Linked DNA regions of Homo sapiens. The gene in region 2 interacts genetically with the main gene of each other region. Each region holds a gene or a part of one and is shown on either strand. Other genes may lie near its edges.

Region 1 (3,592 bases), on a different chromosome or scaffold from region 2:
ACTCAAACCCGTAACACAGCAACTAGCCATCTCCAGTATCACTGATTCCCACCCCAAGAAGTTGAGGTAAGAGGGGAGAGACTGTCTCCTGTTTAAGAAAAACCCACCTACACCTCAGTGAAGCCGTGATGGTAAGGAGGCTGGCACCAGAGGGCAGGGATGAGTAGGCACTGAAACAGGTCTCTCTAGAATCAATGAAGTCTGCCCCAGCTCCTTGGATGAGGTGTTCTTTTGAAATTCCCACTTTTATGGAGTTAGATAAGGGGACAACCGGTGATGATTCATCACTCCCTGTCTCTAAAATTAAAACATGATAAACCCAGAAAGTTTTACCTTCAAAATCCACCAAGCTCCCTCCTGAGAAAATTCTATCCAGTCATGTCCATGCCAGCACCCACTCCCTTCTCCTAATGCCCAGGGCTTCCAGCCCCTCTCCTCACCCTTGGGTGGTCCATCCAACACTGATTTGATACTCTTTGACTCATAATATGACCATTTTTTAAAAATTAGAAAATAAAAGCTATCAATATCACAGCAACATAAGGAAGATACTCAGTGGACATGCTCCTCCCCCATCCTGTGGAGCCCACCTACCCCCACCCCCCTTCCCTGGGAAACCTACACTGCAACATTCCAGCACTGAGCCGGGGGTGGCCCAACAGATGCTGCCTCAAGTGCTTTCCTGACTGTGGCTCCTATACCAGCCAATGTCATGGAACTGGGGTGAGGAAGAACAGGGCCACACCTCCCACCAAATAGATATCGGTAGCCAGTGGTGGGTCTGGGAGATTTAGCTTATGTCAGGCAGCCAAGCCTGGGTCCAACGCTCTCACCAGGACCTCAGTTCTTGGCTTAAATAGCAGCAGCCCCAGTACCACAGCGCCTCCTGGGGGTGACAGAGCACCTAGCTTTCTGTCCGATAACTTATAACAGGTTTGCATTTTCTTACCCACTTCTTTTTTTTTTTTAAATTAAAAGCCGAGGTAGTCCCTGGGATAATAAAACCCTACCTAGAATGGCAGTATTTCAACCTAATGAAGCAGTAAAATAAGTCTCCAGGAGTTAGAAAAAAAAATAAAATAAAGTGATTGATGAAGTTGAATAAATTAAACATATGGATTATCCCACAAAGACCTTTCCTTCCCAGGTTGTCTTTGCTATTTGGCCAGCAGCATTTCTGTGTAACTTCTCTACTCCCCTCCGTCTCCTCTCCCCTCATGAGATGGCTGGAGCCCGATAAGGCCCCGGCTGGTTCATCCCACTGTGGCTCAGAGCAGCTTGACACGGTGCTCAGAACTGCATTGTGGCACAGTTCTGATATGGACGGAGGACGTCTAACAGGGACAGAAGAGGCGTAGCCAGCAAGATGCCCTGGGCTCCAACCTTGGGAGTGTGGGAGGTAGGTTTAAGGCATGGAAGTCCCAGGCCCCCTCTCCAAATGTCACACAGCTGTCCCCTTTGCTTAAGTTTCTCTGCAGCAAAGAGGGTAAAGGGGGATGGAGGGAAGCTTGGGCTGCTGCTGGCTGGTCCTGCCGCCCTCAGAGCTTCTTCAGACGACTGTACATCTCCCTCTTGCTCTTCTCCCCTGCCCAGGTCCGGCTCTTGGTGCGGAACTTCTTCAGGTCTTCTTTAAAGTCCTCGTGGTGCATGGGCCGGTAGCTAGGGGGCTCACAGTAAGACTGAGGGGACAGGAGAGAATAAGGTTAGGGTACACCTGCCTCACACCCACAACCTGGTTTCCTCTCTGCCTAGGGCTACAAGGCTGAAAGCGGCCAGGCAGACCTAGGGAGCCAGTTCTACAGGGGCTTTCTTTGGGTTCAGCAGATACCCACCTTGTCCCCCGACCCCTGGAAAGAAAGTCATGACCACCAGACAGATCCATTAGTCTACCACTGGGGGCAGGGGAGGAGAGATGCTCTCCACAACCCCAGTCTTACCTGGCATTTCATAAAGAACTCCTTGTATCCCCCCTTCAGGACATACAGCTCAGGGTAGTGGAGTTTGGGGTATTCATTACCCAGGCGATCTCTCTCTCTCACATACCGGCACCTAGTCAGGGGAAGGAAGGCCAAAGCAGGGTTAGCTTTTCCAGCACAGCAACAAGGCAACGCAGTCAAAGCAGCAGTTGTGGTCTAAGTCCCCCTTATACACATCTTCCCAACTTGACATTTATTCTTAGAAACAATCAGTGCTGAGTTGCAAGTTCCTGGCCACATGAGCAGCACTCACAGCCAGTGCCAGTAGATGGTCTCTTCCCCAATTTTCCTTTCTCCAACAATCCTAGCATCTGAGTCCTGCCCAGCACCTTCACCACCACAGTTTGTGGCAAGTTTTCACTATATGAGCCAGCTTCCCCTTGCTTTCTCCACCCCAGCCTTCTCTTCAGCCAGGCTCCCTCACTCACCTCCTTCTACATAAGTGGGCTTGTTTCTTTCTGTGGCTTTTAAAGAGGCTGAACTTGCTCCTGCCTCGGGGCCCTGTTTCTATCCTCTACTTGGACTGAATGGTCTTCAATATCCAGCCAATGGCTGCTTACTGCCTCGCCCTTGGTGAAAAAGCCCGAGGCCCCAAGTCCTTCAGAGGCCTACAGCTCTACAGGCCCCTACTGCTGCTCTGCCCCTTGTTCACCCCACGCCAGCCCCTGCAGCCCCACTACTGTTCCTCCAGCCTGCCTGGGAGCTCCACCACTGGCCTTATTTTCCTCTGAAGCACCTTCTTTTTTCTGAGACAGAATCTCACTCTGTCACCAGGCTGGAGTGCAAGGGCGTGACCTCAGGCTCACTGCAATCTCCGTCTCCCGGGTTCAAGCAATTCTCCTGCCTCAGCCTCCCAAATAGCTGGGACTACAGGCGCGTGCCACCGCCCAGCTGATTTTTGTATGTTTAGTAGAGATGGGGCTTCACCATGTTGGCCAGGATGGTCTCGACCTCTTGACCTTGTGATCCACCTGCCTTGGCCTCCCAAAGTGTTGGGATTACAGGAGTTAGCCACCGCACCCAGTCACCTTTTTTTTTTTTTTTTTGAGATGGAGTCTCACTCTGTCGCCCAGGCTGGAGTGCACTGGCGCGATCTCGGCTCACTGCAACCTCTGCCTCCTGGGTTCAAGGGATGCTCCTGCCTCAGCCTCCAAAGTAGCTGGGATTACAGGTGTCCGCCACCACGCCTGGCTAATTTTTGTATTTTTAGTAGAGACGGGATTTCACCATGTTGGCCAGGCTGGTCTCGATCTCCTGTCCACTCCGAAATGTAAGTTCCATGAAGGCAGAGATTTTTTGGTCTGTTTTGTTCACTGCTCTTCTCCCTCAGTATCTAGAAAGGTATCTGGTACACAAGAGCCAAGAGTATCTGCTGATTTTCTCTTGAAGCTCAGTGGTTTGGGGCCTTTGTTAGCTGCTCATGAGGGATGGGCAGCAGCTTCCTCTGCAGCACGTAGCTTAAACCATTTGCCTGTGGTTAAAAGGAGTTTGGCTGGGCGCGGTGGCTCACACCTGTAATTCCAGCACTTTGGGAGGCTGAGGCGGTGGATCACGAGGTCAGGAGTTCGAGACCAGCCTGGCCAAGATAGTGAAACCCTGTGTCTACTAAAACTACA
Region 2 (3,592 bases):
TTTTCACCATGTTGGCCAGGCTGGGCTCGAACTCCTGACCTCAGGTGATCCGCCCGCCTCGGCCTCCCAAAATGCTGGGATTACAGGTATAAGCCACCACGCCCAGCCAAAATAAATTCATTTTTAACAATCAAAATGTTCTTTAAACAAATTATAATTTACTATCATTTAAAACATTTTTAAATTTTTAAATAAATTTTTTTAATTAAAAAATTGTTTTAAATAATTTTAAATAATTAAATTCACATAGTTCACTTCTGGTTTTTAAGGTTTTAAATAATTCCATCCCACTCACTTTCCTTCTTCTCCATACTTGATTCTTTTGAACATACTGGAAATAAAGCTGCTACCTTCTCTTTCACAAATAATACTCTTTTCAAATAGTCTCTCTAATACTACCAACTTAAGTTGTTTAAAATTTAATTTTAAAGATATTTAAAGAGCCAGGTGCAGTGGTGCACACCTGTAATCCCAATACTTTGGGAAGCTGTGGTAGGAAGATCACTTGAGGCCAGGAGTTCAAGAGCAGCCTGGACAACATAGTGAGAACTTGTCTCTACAAAAAGACAAAACAGCCTGGCATGGTAGTGCACGCCTGCAGTCCCAGCTACTCAGGAGGCTGAGGCAGGAGGGTCACCTGGCCCAGTAGTTTGGGGATGCAGTGAGCTATGATCACGTCGCTGCCCTCCAGCCTGGGCGACAAAGCGAAACCCTGCCTCTATAAAATAATAGTAATAAAGACATTTAAAGCTAAGAAAAGATGATTTCTTAGCTTTTCTTCTTTTTGTATCTTCATAGACAAAACAGAATACTTTGATATACTCAGTCTATTACTTTATGTAATCTTTTACAGTTATCTGAAGAATTCTAGGTAGGTTCATTGAAACTATAAGAACATTAGAAATGAACGTTAAGAAACTATAAAATTATCCTTACCAAAATCAGCTATCTTTGCATTCATGTGTGCATCAAGCAGGACATTTTCAGGTTTCAAATCTCTATGGACCACCATATGCCTGTGACAATAATCCACACCAGAAAGGATCTGTTGGAACAGACGCCGACTTTCTTTTTCATCCAGCTAAGAAAAGTTAGAGAGGCTTTTTAAAGGTGTGTCTTTCAAAGTAAATTGTCCTATCTATAATTCTCCAACCTATAAAATTGTCAAAATACATGAAAATCTTCCCAATGAACTTCACTTATGAGATACTTTTGACATGAGGAGGAGATACCTGCAGCACAAAACAGAAATGCTAAGATGGTCTTGGAACCCAAATCAGTAACTCAAGTTTCTAATATTATCATTTGCATATGACTACATTGTAACAGCTTGCCTTCCTCTATATCTCATGAGTTATTTCAAATAATTTCAATATCTACTTGAAATTTGGCATATTTCCTTTTATAAGCGGCAAATGTTTACTCTTTCATTCTTTTAACAAATTACTGAATACCTTCAACGTGCTACACATTGCTTTAGACACTCATTACACAGCAATGAATAAAACAAAGGCTAATCTAGTTGATGAAAATAGACTAATAAATATAGTCAGAAGGAGTGATACTGTTTTGAAGAAAAATAAAGCAAAATATAGGTGCAGTGAGTGATAGTGGGGTGAGGGACACTATTTTAGACCATGAGGAAGTAATATTTAAGCACTATTCATAAACCAGCAAGCAACTATGTTGCTATATGTCCTAAAATAGAAGACATTTTAACAACAAACACCTTAATTCATTTAATAAAATATCATAGCATTTTATCTTTAATATGCTTGCTAAAAAAAAAATCTTACATAGCAACTACCTTTTCATTTTTGTTTTTTGTGTTTTTTTGGGGGGGCGGGGTTTTAAATTTATCTATATTTTGAGATCCAGTCTCGTTCTGTCATCCAGGCTGGAGTGCAGTGATGCCATCACGGCTCACTGCAGCCTCGGCTTCCCTGGGGTCCCGCAATCCTCCCACCCCAGCCTCCTAAGTAGTTGGGACCACAGGCACATGCCACCACGCCCACTAATTTTTGTATTTCTGATAGAGACAGGACTTTGCCATGTTGCCCAGGCTGGTCTCGAACTCCTGAGCTCAGGCAATCTACCGCTTCAGCATCCCAAAGTGCTGAGATTACAGACATGTGCCACTGCATGCAGCCTGAAGTATTTTTTTTAAACTTCTCTATGTATCCATATATTATTACCACTTTTTTCAACATAAGTGACAGCCATTACTTGGACATGCCTGCTCCCAAGAAGTCATATTTAATAAATAAGCTATTAATCCTCTAGGCGAAGGACTCCAATATGCAATTCTCTAACACAGGTCACAAATTAGCATTCTAAAACCAGACTTACACCTTAAAGGGCATGGATAATATGGGAGAAAATACAAATCAGTAATTTATTTTGAAACAAGAAACTATTATAAGATACCATTCCTCTAGAAAAATACTAATCCTTTAGCATTCTAATACTTTTATTTCTAGATTTGTAGGTTCATGGGGAAAAAAAAGAGTATCTGTTCAAATATGAAAAAATAGGAGAAAACTTGATTAAACAAAATATAAAAAGTAAAATAGACAGGCTACAAAAATGAAAATTATACTGTATTAGTAACAAGTACAATTACAAAGGATGGAGAAAGGGATGTCTATAAAGGAAGGTTAGAAAAGTCAAAATACATTTCCAATTAAATGTAACAGATTAAATCTTTTGTCTCCAACTCTTGAAACATCACTAAAATGACATCAGCAATAAAACAGGCATATAAAGACAAAAAGAACAAAAGAGACAGCAGTAATCAAGAGGAGTCACCAAGGATGACAATAGATAAACAGTAATAAAGACTAAGCCTACAAGAGAAAGCTAAAACCTAAGCCTATAGGGGTAGAAACCAGTAAAAAATAAACATCTGCATACAAAGCCTGGGAAGCCTTAGAAATTGGAAACACAGGGAACTGCTCAAGGTAGAAGTGAGAGATGAGCTGAAAACAGGACAAGTGCTTGAAGTAAGAAGCTTTTAAACTCACCCATATTGGGGAATAAGACCTATAATTTACTCTAGTAAGGCTGAACCAGCTCTGCTCTCAAGGACACCAAGGCAGGGATAAGGCATCCTAAGGAAAACATGGGGGCTAAGACAAAGTCAACATACTAACTAGTGAGACTTGCATCTCTTTTCTCCACTCAGCTCCTGGAGCACTGGCAGCTAAGCTAAGGCCTTTAAGGAAATGGGAAGGTTTCTTCTGGAGCAAATATCTGATCCAAGAAAACATATTTGTTATTATTAGCATTTGGTATACAGTAATAAAACAGACAAGTCCCTACCTATTCAAGCTATGAGAAAACCCAGCAATCAGTAAGTCCTACCCACATGAGCCTGGCATTTAATACCCTATTCTTAAATATTTAGTGGACAGCCAAGAATCACCAAATATCTGAAGAAGGGCCATGCATCAAAGACAAAAATGAATAAAATGAATGCAGAGAGCACAGAAGGTACAGAACAAGACGGAACAGAGGAAGACTTTTTTTAAAATGCCATCCTCAGACTAGGTTATTATATCTGTGAGGCAAATAACAGCAGACTAAAAAAATG
Region 3 (3,592 bases), on a different chromosome or scaffold from region 2:
CAGCGAGGAGCCCAGGTGCCTCTCCTGGAGTCTCAGATATGACCCTGCCAGATCCCTGTGTGCTGCCCCACCATGCAATGGACCACAAAGGACCCATCATCTGGTAGAGCTCCTATTTTGATGAGCTTCCCCAGTAAATGTTGCTCTAGAACACCTGGTTTGCTGCTGTCTGTCATACACCTCGTGCGCAATATTACTATGTGTGCATCCACCACATTGGAAACTCTTGTAAACACTACCTTTGTATCACCTCATTTATGCCTCCCAATCCATTTACCCCTCCCAATAGTGCAGGTGGGCACTATTATGATCACTCTCCATCTCAGATAAGAGAATTGAAGCACAGAGAAATTCAACAATTTGGTTCAAGGTCACATATTTAATATCTTATTTGAACCAGGTAGTCTAACCCCAGGGTCCAAACCTTCAACCCCTCTTCTCTACCCTCTTAGAATCTCTCAGAATACTCACATCAGCTTCTGAAATTTTGGAGGCCTGTTCTTTTATTCGTTGATGCCACCATTTCTCAACATCCTTTCTTGTCTGCAATGTATACTCTTTTGTCCACTTTCCCGTGGCACTGTAGATGCTTCTGGTACATCCGGGAATTACTCTCCTTTCCCACTTGATGACATCTGGCCCACCATTTAGCTGTCTTTTCAGAAGAGAGGCATAAAAACCCAATCTCTGCCAAACAGAAGCCATTCTTCAGAAGGTGAGAAGGCCCTGAAAAAGAGGGCAGAAAGCACACTATGAGCTGCCTCAAACCCTCCCCAGAGCTTATCTTTCCATTTGGCACAGTCCAGTGTTCTGGCCCTGTGCTTTCCTCTTACTTTTAATAATTTCTTTCCCTGAAAAGAATACTTTAGCAATTCAATTGAGCTAAACACAAACTTTTTAATAGAAAATATAAAGGGTCAGTAACCCCTAACATCAAAGATGCAAAAATCCTGTAGGAAAAAATGGAGACCATCAGCTGGCCAGCTCCTGCGCAACCTCACAAGTTGCATGGAAGGCATGGAGTGCCCTCCCTCCCCTCCCCATGGGCCAGCCCAGGGACTCTCCAGCAGGCTTCACTTCTTATGTCTTCAAGCCTCAGAAGAGCTCAAGCACATGCTGAGTTGGCGTTAGGCTCAAATATCAGAAGGGGTCTAAATACAGGCCTCCCAGGAGGGCCAGAAATTCTGAACTACTATTAGTAATTTTTATACATATTATGAGTTAAATATACCCTGTAGGCTGAACCAGAAAATAACCATTATTTAGAAGACTGTTAATTCATTTAGTTTCTCCTTCATTTACCAAATATTTATTTATTTATTTACTTACTTTTTAGAGACAGGGTCCTGCTCTTTCACTCAGGCTGGAGTGCAGTGGCATAATCATACCTCAGTGTAACCTCTGACTCCTGGGCTCAAGCGATCTACCTGCCTTAGCCTACCAAAGTGCTGGGATTACAGGCGTGAGCCACCACCAAATATTTAATGACTACCACTAGGCCCACACGTTGTTCTAAGTACTGGGAATATAGCAGTAAACACAAACAGAGTCCCTTCTTTCTTTCTCTGTTTTTTTTTCTTTTTTGAGACAGAGTCTCGCTCTATTGCCCAGGCTGAAGTGCAATGGCATGATCTTGGCTCACTGCAACCTCCACCTCCTGGGTTCAAGCAATTCTCCTGCCTCAGCCTCCTGAGTAGCTGGGATTATAGGCATGCACCAACATGCCCGGCTAATTTTCGTATTTTTAGTGGAGATGGGGTTTCACCATGTTGGCCAGGTTGGTGTCGAACTGCTGACCTCATGATCCACCCACCTTGGCCTCCCAAAGTGCTAGGATTATAGGCGTGAGCCACCACACCTGGCCCAGAGTCCCTTCTTTCGTAGCACTTATTACATACTAGCAGGGAAGCAGATAAGAAACAAACAATAAGGGAGGCAGATGAGAAACAAAAATATATAACATGTGGTCACGGTGAGTGCTATTTTTTGAAATACAACTCATAGGTTGGGGCCTACCAGGATATCCAGTTGTGATTCAAAATCCAATTTTAATGTTTCGTTGGCTTCTTCCACAGGTAAATACTGGAAATGACCTCACTGAAGAAGTTTCATGTTTTATTGCTATTCAAAGGGTTGAGGTGAGATTTTTATCAAATATTTAAGATATAAATACTAGACTAAATAGCCTAAACTTTCTCCTTCTGGCATAACAGCATTCAAGAAGTGCTACAGTGAAAAAACAGATGACAACAGATCTTTTCAAAACCAGAGAGAAATAAAGAAACCCGGCACTCTAAGCTGATGTTCTTTGATTCTCTCAAAATTCCACTTCTATCAGGATTTGGCCTGTTTCACAAAGGTACTAGAACACAAATGTTGCCAGGAAGGTCAATATAGGCTTATAACAGTGAGTTTCAAACTCACATAAGACAGCAACATAATGTGGGCATCTTACAAGTTGGTCTGCCAAAGTCATTGACATTATCAGTTCTCACTACATTAAACACCTCTTGCTTCTTCAGGGATAGAATAAAGTGCAGACTTAAAAAAAAAAATCTCTCTTAGGCCACGGGCAATGGTTCACGTCTGTAACACCAGCATTCTGGGAGGCTGAGGCAGGCGGATCACCTGAGGTCAGGAGTTCGAGACCAATCTGGCCAACATGGCAAAACCCCTTCTCTACTAAAAATACAAAAATTAGCTGGGCATGGTGACGTGCATCTGTAATCCTAGCTACTAGGGTGGCTGAGGCAGAGGAATAACTTGAACCTGGGAGGCAGAGGTTGCAGTGAGCGCCACTGCACTCCAGAGCCTGGGCGACAAAACAAGACTCCATCTCAAAAAAAAAAAAAAAAAGATAAAAAAGAAATCTCTCTATTAGTTGGGCTTGGCTATTTTAAAGTACACAGATCTGATTACAGGCATTTGAACTATATGAAATTGGTTAAATGTTAGCAATTCCATATGACTGACCTAATATACATACGCTTTGTACACTTAAGGCAATTGCATATATTTTTAGGGCTTAGGTTGCTATAATTAGAACTCCCTAATTATATAGAAGTCACAGATTTTATGGTTCTCTTGCCAAGTCAATACTTTCATACCTTTGCAAGCCAAAGAACGCCTGTTTAGCAGAGGACACATAGATGGATGCTTGCCACTTCTCTCCTAGACAGCATCCCCAAAGAACACCTAAGGAGTGTTCTGGGCTATCCTCTCAAATAGAAACAAAAGGGCACAACAAAATTATAAAATACAGTGACTTGAACTGCTCTGCCTACACTGTCTGTCTACACAACAAGAATAAGCTTTCTAAAAATGTTCACATAATACCTGGCTTACTAATGACCTCTGCTTTGCTTAAATAAACCAGTGAACTAGAGAATCCTGAAACAGATCTGGGTATTTAAAAGCATTTAAAGTTCATTTTTTTAAAAAAGCAGGAGCAGATTAGATAGTAATAGATTATTCAACAAATAAGAGAAAAACTTAAAATTAGAGCCCCACCTCAAATCATAAGCCGGAGTAAATCCCAGATAGATTAAATAATGTTTTTTATCTGTAGGTCTGGATCTGAAAAGCAGAAAAA
Region 4 (2,828 bases), on a different chromosome or scaffold from region 2:
CGGAGCCCAGCTTTGGGAAACTCTATTTCTTGGGCAAGTCATTTCCTCTTTTGGGGCCTCAGTTTACCAAAGAATAAAATGCACAGTGAAGGAAATAGGTAAGAGGCAAGTTCCTTCCCATGCTGGTGTGCAATTCTAACAAAATGAGTCCCCTTTATGGAGTGATATTACTTCATTTAATCCTCAGGACAACCACGCACCAGGTATCTTATCCCCAGTTATCCAGTTATGGGTGAGGACACTGAGGTTCAGAGAAGTGGCTTGCCCACGTTCTCACAACCAAAAATGAAGGGCTCTGCTTGCTTCACCGGGCCGTGTTCTATGCTGCAGTTCCATATCTCTTCCTCAGTGTGTGTCTGTTTAGATCACTAGTAATTCCCGGAATAAGATCCCAAGCTCTCAGGACGTCGTTCCCCAATCTAGGCAGAGTGCTTATCAGTCCCTGTGGCGCAGGTCAAAACACCCCACCCTTGCCTGCCTACCTGCTCTGCGGAAGGCAGTCATGGCCTCCAGTACGGCAGCCTTGAGATCAAATGCCCCGGCCTGGGCTCCATGCCACAGCATGGCAAACTCTCCAGAGACGTGGTACACGGCGAGAGGGAGGTCAGGGTGCTGCAGGGAAGCAGACAGGGAGACAGGCTGAAATGGAGGGTGGATGTGGCTCTGGAAGCGTCCCTTCCCCCCTGCTCAATCTGTGACCATCTTGAGCCCCGTGTCCTGGGTTACTGCGGCTGGCAGCCTGGCCCACTCTTGAACTGTTAAAGCAGGGCTGTTTGAGGCTCGTGCAAGCCCCGACATAGAAGGCCACGATGGTTCCTGGGCAGGGAAGGGGAGGAGAGGATGCATGCTTAAGGGCAAACTGCTTCCAACTCTGAGATTCCAGAGTCTGTGGAAAACTCTGTCCCAGCCCCCTGAGCCCCCTTTGCCTCGTACCTGTGCTCACCTTGTCCTTTACCTCCCGCACGATGTCCAGGTAGGGCATTCCCGGCTTCACCATGAGCATGTCAGCTCCTTCCCGTACATCCCGGTCCTAAGGGATGAGGGTATAATGTGGGTGGTGCCTAGGAGGGGGCTGAGGGTGGGGCTCAAGTCCTAGTCACTCACCACAGCTCGGAGAGCCAGGCCTCGTGCTCCAGGGGGCAGCTGGTAGCAGCGGCGGTCCCCAAAAGCTGGGCTTGACTTAGCTGCATCCCTGCAAAGCAGAGTCATCAGGGTGGGCTCCAGCTTTGGGCCAAAGGGCCAGGGATTCACAGCAGACCCCTGCCCACCCCTGCTCACCGGAAAGGGCCATAGAAACAGGAAGCAAATTTGGCACTGTAGCTCATCACCGATACCTATGGGGAGACAATGGAGGTCTTGGCTTATTCGGCCCTTGCCAGGTATCCCAGGGTGATGTGGCAGGGAGAGAAAGAACCTAGGCTGGGAAGGAGACTGCCTGTGTTCTGGTCCTGTTGGAGTGCTGGGCTTGATTTCCCTGCAGAGGCCCAGAGGTTTAAATGGTTCCCCAAAGCCTCATCCAGCACTGTCTTCAGTTCTGTGATTCTTTTTTTTTTTGAGATGGAGTCTAGCTCTGTCATCCAGGCTGAAGTGCAGTGGCATGATCTCAGCTCACTGCCTCGTGGGTTCAAGCGATTCTCCTGCCTCAGCCTCCCCAGTAGCTGGGATTACAGGCGCCTGCCACCACGCCCAGCTAATTTTTGTGTTTTTAGTAGAGATGGGGTTTCACCATGTTGGCCAGGCTGGTCTTGAACCCCTGACCTCAAGTGATCTACCTGCCTCAGCCTCCCAAAGTGCTGGGACTACAGGTGTGAGCCAACACGCCCGGCAGTTCTGTGATTCTTAGCAGACACGGGGGCAGGGCTGGTGCAGACTATCTCCTGCCAGCCCTGTGCTGCATTCCCTGCCCTTACCCTGTTGCCAAGTCCATGTGCCATCAGGGCCTCTTTGATGGCTTCCACGCGTCCATCCATCATGTCCGACGGGGCTACCACCTGACATCCTGGGGGGCAGAGGGTGGCCTTCAGAACTCTGGGGCCCTCCTAGCCACTCTGCCACCTCCTGACCCAGAGGTGCCCATCCCTGCTGGTGGTTCACTCACCTGCCTTGGCATACGCCAATGCCACCTCAGCCAGCCGCTGGCGGCTCTCCTCAGCCCGGAATGCTCCGTTTTCACTCAGGAGCCCTTCAGGACAGATGACTGGGTTTTGGGGAGCACCTTGGGCCCTGGCCTGTCCCCACCCTGTTGAGAAGTGGGCAGTAGGAGTGTGGGTGGCAGCAGGGCTGGTGGGAGGGAGGGAACTCACCGCAGTGACCATGGGAGGTGTAGGGACACAGGCAGACATCACAGGCCACCAGGAGGTTGGGGAAGGTCTTCCTCAACAGATGGATTGCCTCAATAGCTGGGGACTCCTCGGAGTCAGCTGCGGAACCCCGCTCGTCCTAGGGGCAGGGGAGGGACAAAGCAGTGTGTCTATTACATGTAGCTTTGGAAGGCAGGATGACAGCCATCACAGAGCATAGCCCTGGCCTTCTCCTTCCTTCATCATCACAGCCCCTGGATAAGGAAGCACAGAGGACTGACCCTACATGGGTGCTGACTTAAGGGCAAAGACCACGTCCATTCACCTGTGGCCCCAGGGCCAGCACAATGTGGGAGTGAGGGTGCAGTCAGTGTGGACCCTCAGTCCACCTTTGCCCAACCTCCCTTCCTTTTTCTGTTTGTATTGGAGACAGGGTCTTGCTCTGTCACCCAGGCTAGAGTGCACTGGCGCGATTTTGGCTCACTGCAGCCTCGACTTTCTGGGCTCAAGCAATCCTCCCACCTCTCC
Region 5 (3,592 bases), on a different chromosome or scaffold from region 2:
ATCAATTAATGCAACAGATCACATCAATAGAATTAAGGACAAAAAAACCAAATGATCATCATAATAGGCACAGATAAAGCATTTGGGAAATTAAATACCCCTTCATGATAAAACCAACAACAAATTAAAACTAGAAGGAAAGGCCCTAAACCTAATAAAAGACACCAATGAAAAACCCACAGTGAATATCACACTTAATGGTGAAAGATTGAATAGTTTCTCCCATGCCGCCTGCCAAGATCAGTAACAACAGAAGGATGTCTGTTTTCATCTCATCTTTTCAACATTCTAGTAGAGGTTATAGCCAAGGTAATTAGGTAAGAAAAAGAAAATAAAAGGCATCTGGATTGGAAAGGAAGAGATGAAATTATTTCTATTTGCAGATAACATAATCTTGTATATAGAAAATCCCAAGGAATGCACTAAAAAACACCATTGGACCTAATAAATGAGTCCAGCAATGTTGCAGAATATAAGATCAATATATAAAAATCAATTACATTTCTATAAAGTAGCCATGAGCAAACAAAATGAAATTAAGTAAAACAATTTTATTTACAATAGCATCAAAACAATAAAATGCTTAAAAGAACACTTTAAAAAATGTAAAACACTCTGAAAACTGCAAAACATTGGTGAATATAATTAAAGACCTAAGTAAATGCAACAACATCTCATGTTCAGGGACCTAAAACTTATTATTGTTAAGATGGTAATATTCCCTAACTAATCTATAGATTAAATGCAGCTTCTGTCAAAGTTTCAGCTTAATTCTTTGCAGAAATTAATAAATTGGTCTTAAAATTTATATGGAAATGCAAAGGACCTAGAATAGCCAAAACAATCATAAAAACAATCTGAAAAAGACCAAAATTAGAAGACATACTTCCCAATTTCAAAATTACAATTAAACTACAATAATCAAGAATGTGTGGTACTGGTATAAGGGTAGAGATACATATAAACAAATGGAATAGAACTGAGAGCCCAGAAGTAAACCCTTCAACTTATAGTCACCTGATTTTCATCAAGGGTGCCAAGACAATTAAGTAGGGGAAAGAAGAGTCTTTTCAAAAAATGCTGCTAGGACAACTGGATAGCCACATGCAAAAGAACGAAGCTGGATTCCCATCTCACACCACATGCAAATATTAACTCAGAATAAATTGAAAAACCTAAATGTAAGAGCCAAGACTATAAAACTCTTAGAAAAAAGCCTAGGCATATATCTTTGTGACTTTGCATGCTACAACATGGATTAACCTTGAAAACATGCCCAAAGAAACGAGCCAGATACAAAAGGCCACATATTGTATGATTCCCCTTATATAAAATGTCCAGAATAGGCAAATTCATTGAGACTGAAAGTAGATTAGTGGTTGCCAGGGGCTAAGGGGAGAGGGTCATCTGGAGTGAGTCTAGAGTATGGAATTCCTTTTTGGCATAAAGAAAATGTCCTGGAATTAGTGGTGATGGTTACACAACTATGTGAATATACTCAAAACCACTGTATACTTCAAAATGGTGAATTTTATGGTATGTGAATTATATCTCTATCAAAAACAATTTTTTAAATGTAGGAAAACACATACCAGGCAAATATTAAGCTAAATAAAGCTAATGTAGGTATATTAATATGAGAAAAAAGATTGATTATAGGGCAAAAACATCAATGATACCAAATTACCAGGTATTACCAGAGTTAATAATTTCCTTACATGGTGATAAAATATTCAATTCACAAGGAAGATATAGCAATTCTAAATTTGTTTGTAACTACGAACTTTCAAGATTGACAGAATTACAAGGAAACATTAACAAATTTTCCATATCAACAGGCAGCCAAAACCCCAGAAGAATATAGAACATTTGAGCCAGATTAACAAACACAACTTAATCGAGGTATATAGTACACTAAACACAACTGTAAAACGCACATTCTTTTCAAGTGCTCTTGGAACATTTACCAGATTGTCCATAAGTTGGTCCATAAAGCAAGTCTCAACAGATTTCAAAGAACTGAAATAATACAAAGTTTGTTCTCTGACCAGAATGGAATTAAAATAGAAATGACAAGAGCACTGATCTATCAAAACAGAAGCTGGTCCAAGGGCTGGCACCAAGTACTGGAGGCCTCCTGCTGTGGTAGGCATTAATCCTTTAGTTGCTAGATGATAATCAGTAGGTCCTGGCTATCCTGGGAAAGGAATTGAGGTGGCCAGGGTAACTGGGTAAGTGTTGGAGAGACTAAAAAAGCCTGGGAGAGTGCCTATTTATAAAATGGACTAGAAATATTCTGAAAATTCATATGGCCATACGATTGTGAATCTGTGGAATATCAGCCCTGTTTAGTAGGCCAATTATCTCATTGGACACTTAAATTAGAAAAGAAGAAAGTCTGAAAATGAATGAGCTGAGCAGCAGGCAACTCTATGAGTTAAAAAAGAACAACAGAATAAATCCAAAGAAAGTAGGAGAAACAGAATAATGATGAAAAAATAGTTAAATAGAAAATAAAGATAAAAAAGGATCAAAAAGTCAAAAGTTGATTATTTTAGAATTATAAAAGTGTCAAACTTATAGCAAGATTGATCAAGAGAAAAAAGGTGCAAATAAATAATATTATAATGAAAGAGAAGCTATAACTACAAATGCAACAGAGATAAAAAAGATACAAAGATAAGAACTTTACACAAAATAAATTTGAAAACTATGTGAAGTAGAAAAATTCATAGAAAACCATAACTTAGGAAAGCTTAAGAAAGCTAACTTTAGTGGAAATAGCAAACTGAAAGGACTCTATAACTGATAAAAGAGATTGTATCAGTTAAAATGTTAAAGGAGACACCAGGTCCAGATATTTTACCTGGAAATGCTGCCAGGTAAAATATTTGAGGAATGGCTAGTTCTGCAGACAACCTCTGTCAGAGGACAGAATGAAAGGAAATAGTTCCCACCTGATTTTATGAGGTTAGTGTAATCTTGACACTCTTGGAAAAATCACAGGCCAATCTCTTTCCTGAGCAAAATGCTAAAATCCTAAACAAAAAATTAGTGAAAGAAATTCAGAAGTTTTTATTTATCCCAGGACTGCAAGATTATTTCAACACAAGAAAAACTCTAATGTATTGTACCACATTAATGGGTTAAAATAGAAAATTAATGTCATTTCAGTGAATACAGAAAACATGTTTAATAAAATTCAATATTCATTCATCTTTTAAAAATTGTATTGGCAAACTCAGAATAAACAGGAACGTCTTTAACCTATTAAATGATATCTACCAAAAAAACTACAGCAAATTTGCTCAATGGTGAAACTTAAAATCGGGATCAGCATAAGAATATACATTATTAACATTTCTTTTCAACGTGTACTGCACATCTCGTGTGTGTATATTAAAGGCGGGAGGTCTTAGCAGTGTAATAATATAAGAAAGATAAAAATGAGGGTTGTGGGGAAAATGAAAGCTGTCATTTACATACAAATTATCAAAACTCATAAGAAAGTTTAGCAGGTTTGCTAGTTACAAATTCATTACATGAAAAACAAATACAGTTGTATACATTAGCAACATACTGCTATAAAATT
Region 6 (3,592 bases), on a different chromosome or scaffold from region 2:
CTGAACTATGTTCCTGCTACTGCACTCTAGCCTGGGTGACAGAGCAAGACCTGGGTCTCAAAAAGAAAAAGAAAATGCTGGGACTGGGATTATAGGTGTGAGCTGGGCACAGTGGCTCACACTTGTAATCCCAGCACTTTGGGAGGCCAAGGTAGGCAGCTCACTTGAGGCCACGAGTTCAAGCCCAGCCTGGGCAACATGGTAAAACCCCATCTCTACAAAAAAAAATTAGCCTGGCATGGTCATGCATGCCTGTAGTCTCAGCTACCCAGGAGGCTGAGGTGGGAGGATCACCTGAGCCTGGAAGTAGAGGCTGCAGTGAGCCTGTGATCATGCCGCTGCACTCCAGCCTGGGTGACTGAGTGAGACCTTGTCTCAAAAAAAAGAATGGATTGGCCAGGCATGGTGGCTTACGCCTGTAATCCCAGCACTTTGGGAGGCCAAGGTGGGCAGATCACCTGAGGTCAGGAGTTCGAGACCAGCCTGGCCAACATGGCGAAACCCTGTCTCTACTAAAAATACAAAAAATTAGCCGGGCATGGTGGCAGGCACCTGAAATCCACCTACCTGGGAGGCTGAGGCAGGAGAATCGCTTGAACCCAGGAGGCAGAGGTTGCAATGAGCTGAGATCATGTCACTGCACTCTAGCCTGGGTAGAGTGAGATTCTGTCTCCAAAAAAAAAGAATAATTAACTGCAAGATACCAGGACTCCATGAGGGACACAGAGACTTAGCGTCCCTAGGCAGTGGCTGAGTCTTGAGAGATCTTGAAATTTTTAATGAGAACTGGGGCAAACTGTCTCATTACCTCTCCATTGTAAGACCCTTTTAACACAGTGAATCTTGTTACCATGTAGAGCACAGGACAAAAAGAACACATAAGCTCGATCCTTGGACCCTGAGATGTCATATGTGCTAACAGGACAGGGGTGCCCAAATCCTGAGCATCTCAGACAGCTGGATGCGTGACCACAGCAGCCACAGTGATGTTTGTGGAGTGTTTGCCACACGCCACACTCTGCTCTAAGGGAGTCATCTCATTTCCTTCTTGAAACAATTCCCAGGAGGTTAGGAACTCTCAGGACTCACCCCCCACCCACCCCGCACTGCCTCTTGTTTTTAAGATGGAGTCTCCCTCTGTTGCCCAGGCTGGAGTGCAGTGGCTTGATCTCGGCTCACTGCAACCTCCACCTCCCGGGTTCAAGCGATTCTCTTGCCTCGACCACCTGAGTAGCTGGGACTACAGACATGCACCAGCATGCATAGCTAATTTTTAAAATTTTTAGTAGAGACAGGGTTTTGCTGTGTTGGCCAGGTCTCGAACTCCTGACCTCAGGTGATCTGCCCACCTCAGCCTCCCAAAGTGCTGAAATTACAAGCGTGAGCCACCATGCCCGGCCTCAGGACCCCATTTGACAGACGTGTAAACTGAGACCTGCAGCCCATGCCCGTGCGCCTCTCAGCAGCCGTCTGGCTTCAGCGCTGTGCCCTGAACCCCTGCACCAAACCACAGCCAGGCCAGAGAGCCAGGGCAGGGTTTCTGTTCTCACACAGATGCAGGAAGGACGCACAAGCCCCCCTTTGATTAATTTAGGACCTGTGCAGATGCCCGGGACAGGTAGCGGGAGAAGAGGAAGCAGGAGGGAAGGGGTACTGTGGACAGCTGGCTTTTCTTTACTCACCTCTCTGGTTTTCTTCCAGATCCTCCCAAGAAGGTGACCACAGTGATTCAAAACCCCATGCCGATTCGAGAAGGAGACACAGTGACCCTTTCCTGTAACTACAATTCCAGTAACCCCAGTGTTACCCGGTATGAATGGAAACCCCATGGCGCCTGGGAGGAGCCATCGCTTGGGGTGCTGAAGATCCAAAACGTTGGCTGGGACAACACAACCATCGCCTGCGCAGCTTGTAATAGTTGGTGCTCGTGGGCCTCCCCTGTCGCCCTGAATGTCCAGTGTGAGTCCCTGGGCTAGGCAGGGGGATCTGGGAGGTGGCCCGGCTGGGATGAGGGGATGAAGGCAACGAGGCCGGAGCCTGGGCCAGTGTCTTCAACAGAATTGAGGGACAGGAGCCTGGCGTCAGGGCCAAGGGGAGGGGAGGCCTGGGGACAGCAAAAGGGACAGGGAGCGGAGAGGTCAGCTTGGGACCCTTGCCCTCCAGATGCCCCCCGAGACGTGAGGGTCCGGAAAATCAAGCCCCTTTCCGAGATTCACTCTGGAAACTCGGTCAGCCTCCAATGTGACTTCTCAAGCAGCCACCCCAAAGAAGTCCAGTTCTTCTGGGAGAAAAATGGCAGGCTTCTGGGGAAAGAAAGCCAGCTGAATTTTGACTCCATCTCCCCAGAAGATGCTGGGAGTTACAGCTGCTGGGTGAACAACTCCATAGGACAGACAGCGTCCAAGGCCTGGACACTTGAAGTGCTGTGTGAGTGAGGGCCGGAGGCTGGGAGTGGAGCAGAGAAGGGACCAGTGGCCTGCCTGGTAGTGACTTCGCACCCCCTCCCCCTGCCCGCCATGCAGATGCACCCAGGAGGCTGCGTGTGTCCATGAGCCCGGGGGACCAAGTGATGGAGGGGAAGAGTGCAACCCTGACCTGTGAGAGCGACGCCAACCCTCCCGTCTCCCACTACACCTGGTTTGACTGGAATAACCAAAGCCTCCCCTACCACAGCCAGAAGCTGAGATTGGAGCCGGTGAAGGTCCAGCACTCGGGTGCCTACTGGTGCCAGGGGACCAACAGTGTGGGCAAGGGCCGTTCGCCTCTCAGCACCCTCACCGTCTACTGTAAGGCCTCTTCCTGCTCTTGTTCTTCTTGGTGGTGGTCAGTCCTTCCTTCCTTCCTTCCTTCCTTCCTTCCTTCCTTCCTTCCTTCCTTTCTTTCTCTCTTTCTTTTCCTCCTCCTCTTCTTCCCCTCCTCCTCCTCTTCCTCCTTCTTCTTCTTCTTCTGCTTTCTCCCTCTCCTCCTCCTCTTTCTTCTCCTTCTCCTTCCTTCTTCTTCTTCTTATAGAGACAAGGTCTTACTCTGTCACCCAGGCTGGAGTGCAGTCGCATAATGACACCTCACTGCAGCCTCCAATTCCTGGGCTCAAGCAATCCTTTCGCCTCAGCCTCCTGAGTAGCTGGGACTATAGACATGCACCACCACATCCGGCTAATTTTTACATTTTTGTAGAGATGGGGTCTTACTATGTTGACCAGGCTGGTTTCAAACTCCTGACCTCAAGTGACCCTTCTGCCTCAGCTTCCCAAAGCCCTGGGATTAGAGCCATGAGCCACTGTGCCTCTCCCTGTTTCCTCTCATGCTCCTCTCTGGCCCTGTCTCCTCCAGTGACTTCCCGAAAAGCCTTCCAGACCAGCTGGCCCCTTCTTCCCCACCTCACTGTCCCCTTTCCCATTCACACCCCTTGCTCCAGGCCATCTGCCGCTGTGCTGGAGGAGTCGTCTTGTCCTGCGTCACCAGTCTCTCTTTTTCTACCTCCCCTGCAGTCTCTCCTGCCTCCCTCTAGGGTCCCCTCTCAGGCTGCTCCACCTTCCAGAAGTCCTGAGCTCCTACTGGGTCCCTGTCTCTCTCTCTCTGACTACTCTGTCTC

What was found.
Region 1: changes in PRKAA1 (region 2) and CDC25A together harm fitness more than expected from each alone (negative genetic interaction), as found in Homo sapiens cells (one large-scale study listed by BioGRID).
Region 3: changes in PRKAA1 (region 2) and LARS2 together harm fitness more than expected from each alone (negative genetic interaction), as found in Homo sapiens cells (one large-scale study listed by BioGRID).
Region 4: changes in PRKAA1 (region 2) and ALAD together harm fitness less than expected from each alone (positive genetic interaction), as found in Homo sapiens cells (one large-scale study listed by BioGRID).
Region 5: changes in PRKAA1 (region 2) and PFKFB1 together harm fitness more than expected from each alone (negative genetic interaction), as found in Homo sapiens cells (one large-scale study listed by BioGRID).
Region 6: changes in PRKAA1 (region 2) and CD22 together harm fitness more than expected from each alone (negative genetic interaction), as found in Homo sapiens cells (one large-scale study listed by BioGRID).

What each region holds. Positions count from the first base shown.
Region 1 is NC_000003.12:48,157,407-48,160,998, forward strand, and holds part of CDC25A (M-phase inducer phosphatase 1), read right to left. Parts: intron 2,050-3,592; coding exon 1,938-2,049; intron 1,680-1,937; coding exon 1,539-1,679; 3' UTR 1-1,538. UniProt on the Homo sapiens protein: Tyrosine protein phosphatase which functions as a dosage-dependent inducer of mitotic progression. Directly dephosphorylates CDK1 and stimulates its kinase activity. Also dephosphorylates CDK2 in complex with cyclin-E, in vitro.
Region 2 is NC_000005.10:40,770,783-40,774,374, forward strand, and holds part of PRKAA1 (5'-AMP-activated protein kinase catalytic subunit alpha-1), read right to left. Parts: intron 1,082-3,592; coding exon 937-1,081; intron 1-936. UniProt on the Homo sapiens protein: Catalytic subunit of AMP-activated protein kinase (AMPK), an energy sensor protein kinase that plays a key role in regulating cellular energy metabolism.
Region 3 is NC_000003.12:45,391,567-45,395,158, reverse strand, and holds part of LARS2 (leucine--tRNA ligase, mitochondrial), read right to left. Parts: intron 3,577-3,592; 5' UTR 3,511-3,576; intron 727-3,510; 5' UTR 706-726; coding exon 472-705; intron 1-471.
Region 4 is NC_000009.12:113,388,495-113,391,322, forward strand, and holds part of ALAD (delta-aminolevulinic acid dehydratase), read right to left. Parts: intron 2,440-2,828; coding exon 2,304-2,439; intron 2,183-2,303; coding exon 2,099-2,182; intron 2,000-2,098; coding exon 1,911-1,999; intron 1,335-1,910; coding exon 1,279-1,334; intron 1,193-1,278; coding exon 1,105-1,192; intron 1,031-1,104; coding exon 944-1,030; intron 613-943; coding exon 483-612; intron 1-482.
Region 5 is NC_000023.11:54,987,682-54,991,273, forward strand, and holds part of PFKFB1 (6-phosphofructo-2-kinase/fructose-2,6-bisphosphatase 1), read right to left. Parts: intron 3,040-3,592; exon of another isoform or gene 2,958-3,039; intron 1-2,957. UniProt on the Homo sapiens protein: Synthesis and degradation of fructose 2,6-bisphosphate.
Region 6 is NC_000019.10:35,339,180-35,342,771, forward strand, and holds part of CD22 (B-cell receptor CD22 isoform 1 precursor), read left to right. Parts: intron 1-1,701; coding exon 1,702-1,959; intron 1,960-2,163; coding exon 2,164-2,427; intron 2,428-2,522; coding exon 2,523-2,786; intron 2,787-3,592. UniProt on the Homo sapiens protein: Most highly expressed siglec (sialic acid-binding immunoglobulin-like lectin) on B-cells that plays a role in various aspects of B-cell biology including differentiation, antigen presentation, and trafficking to bone marrow.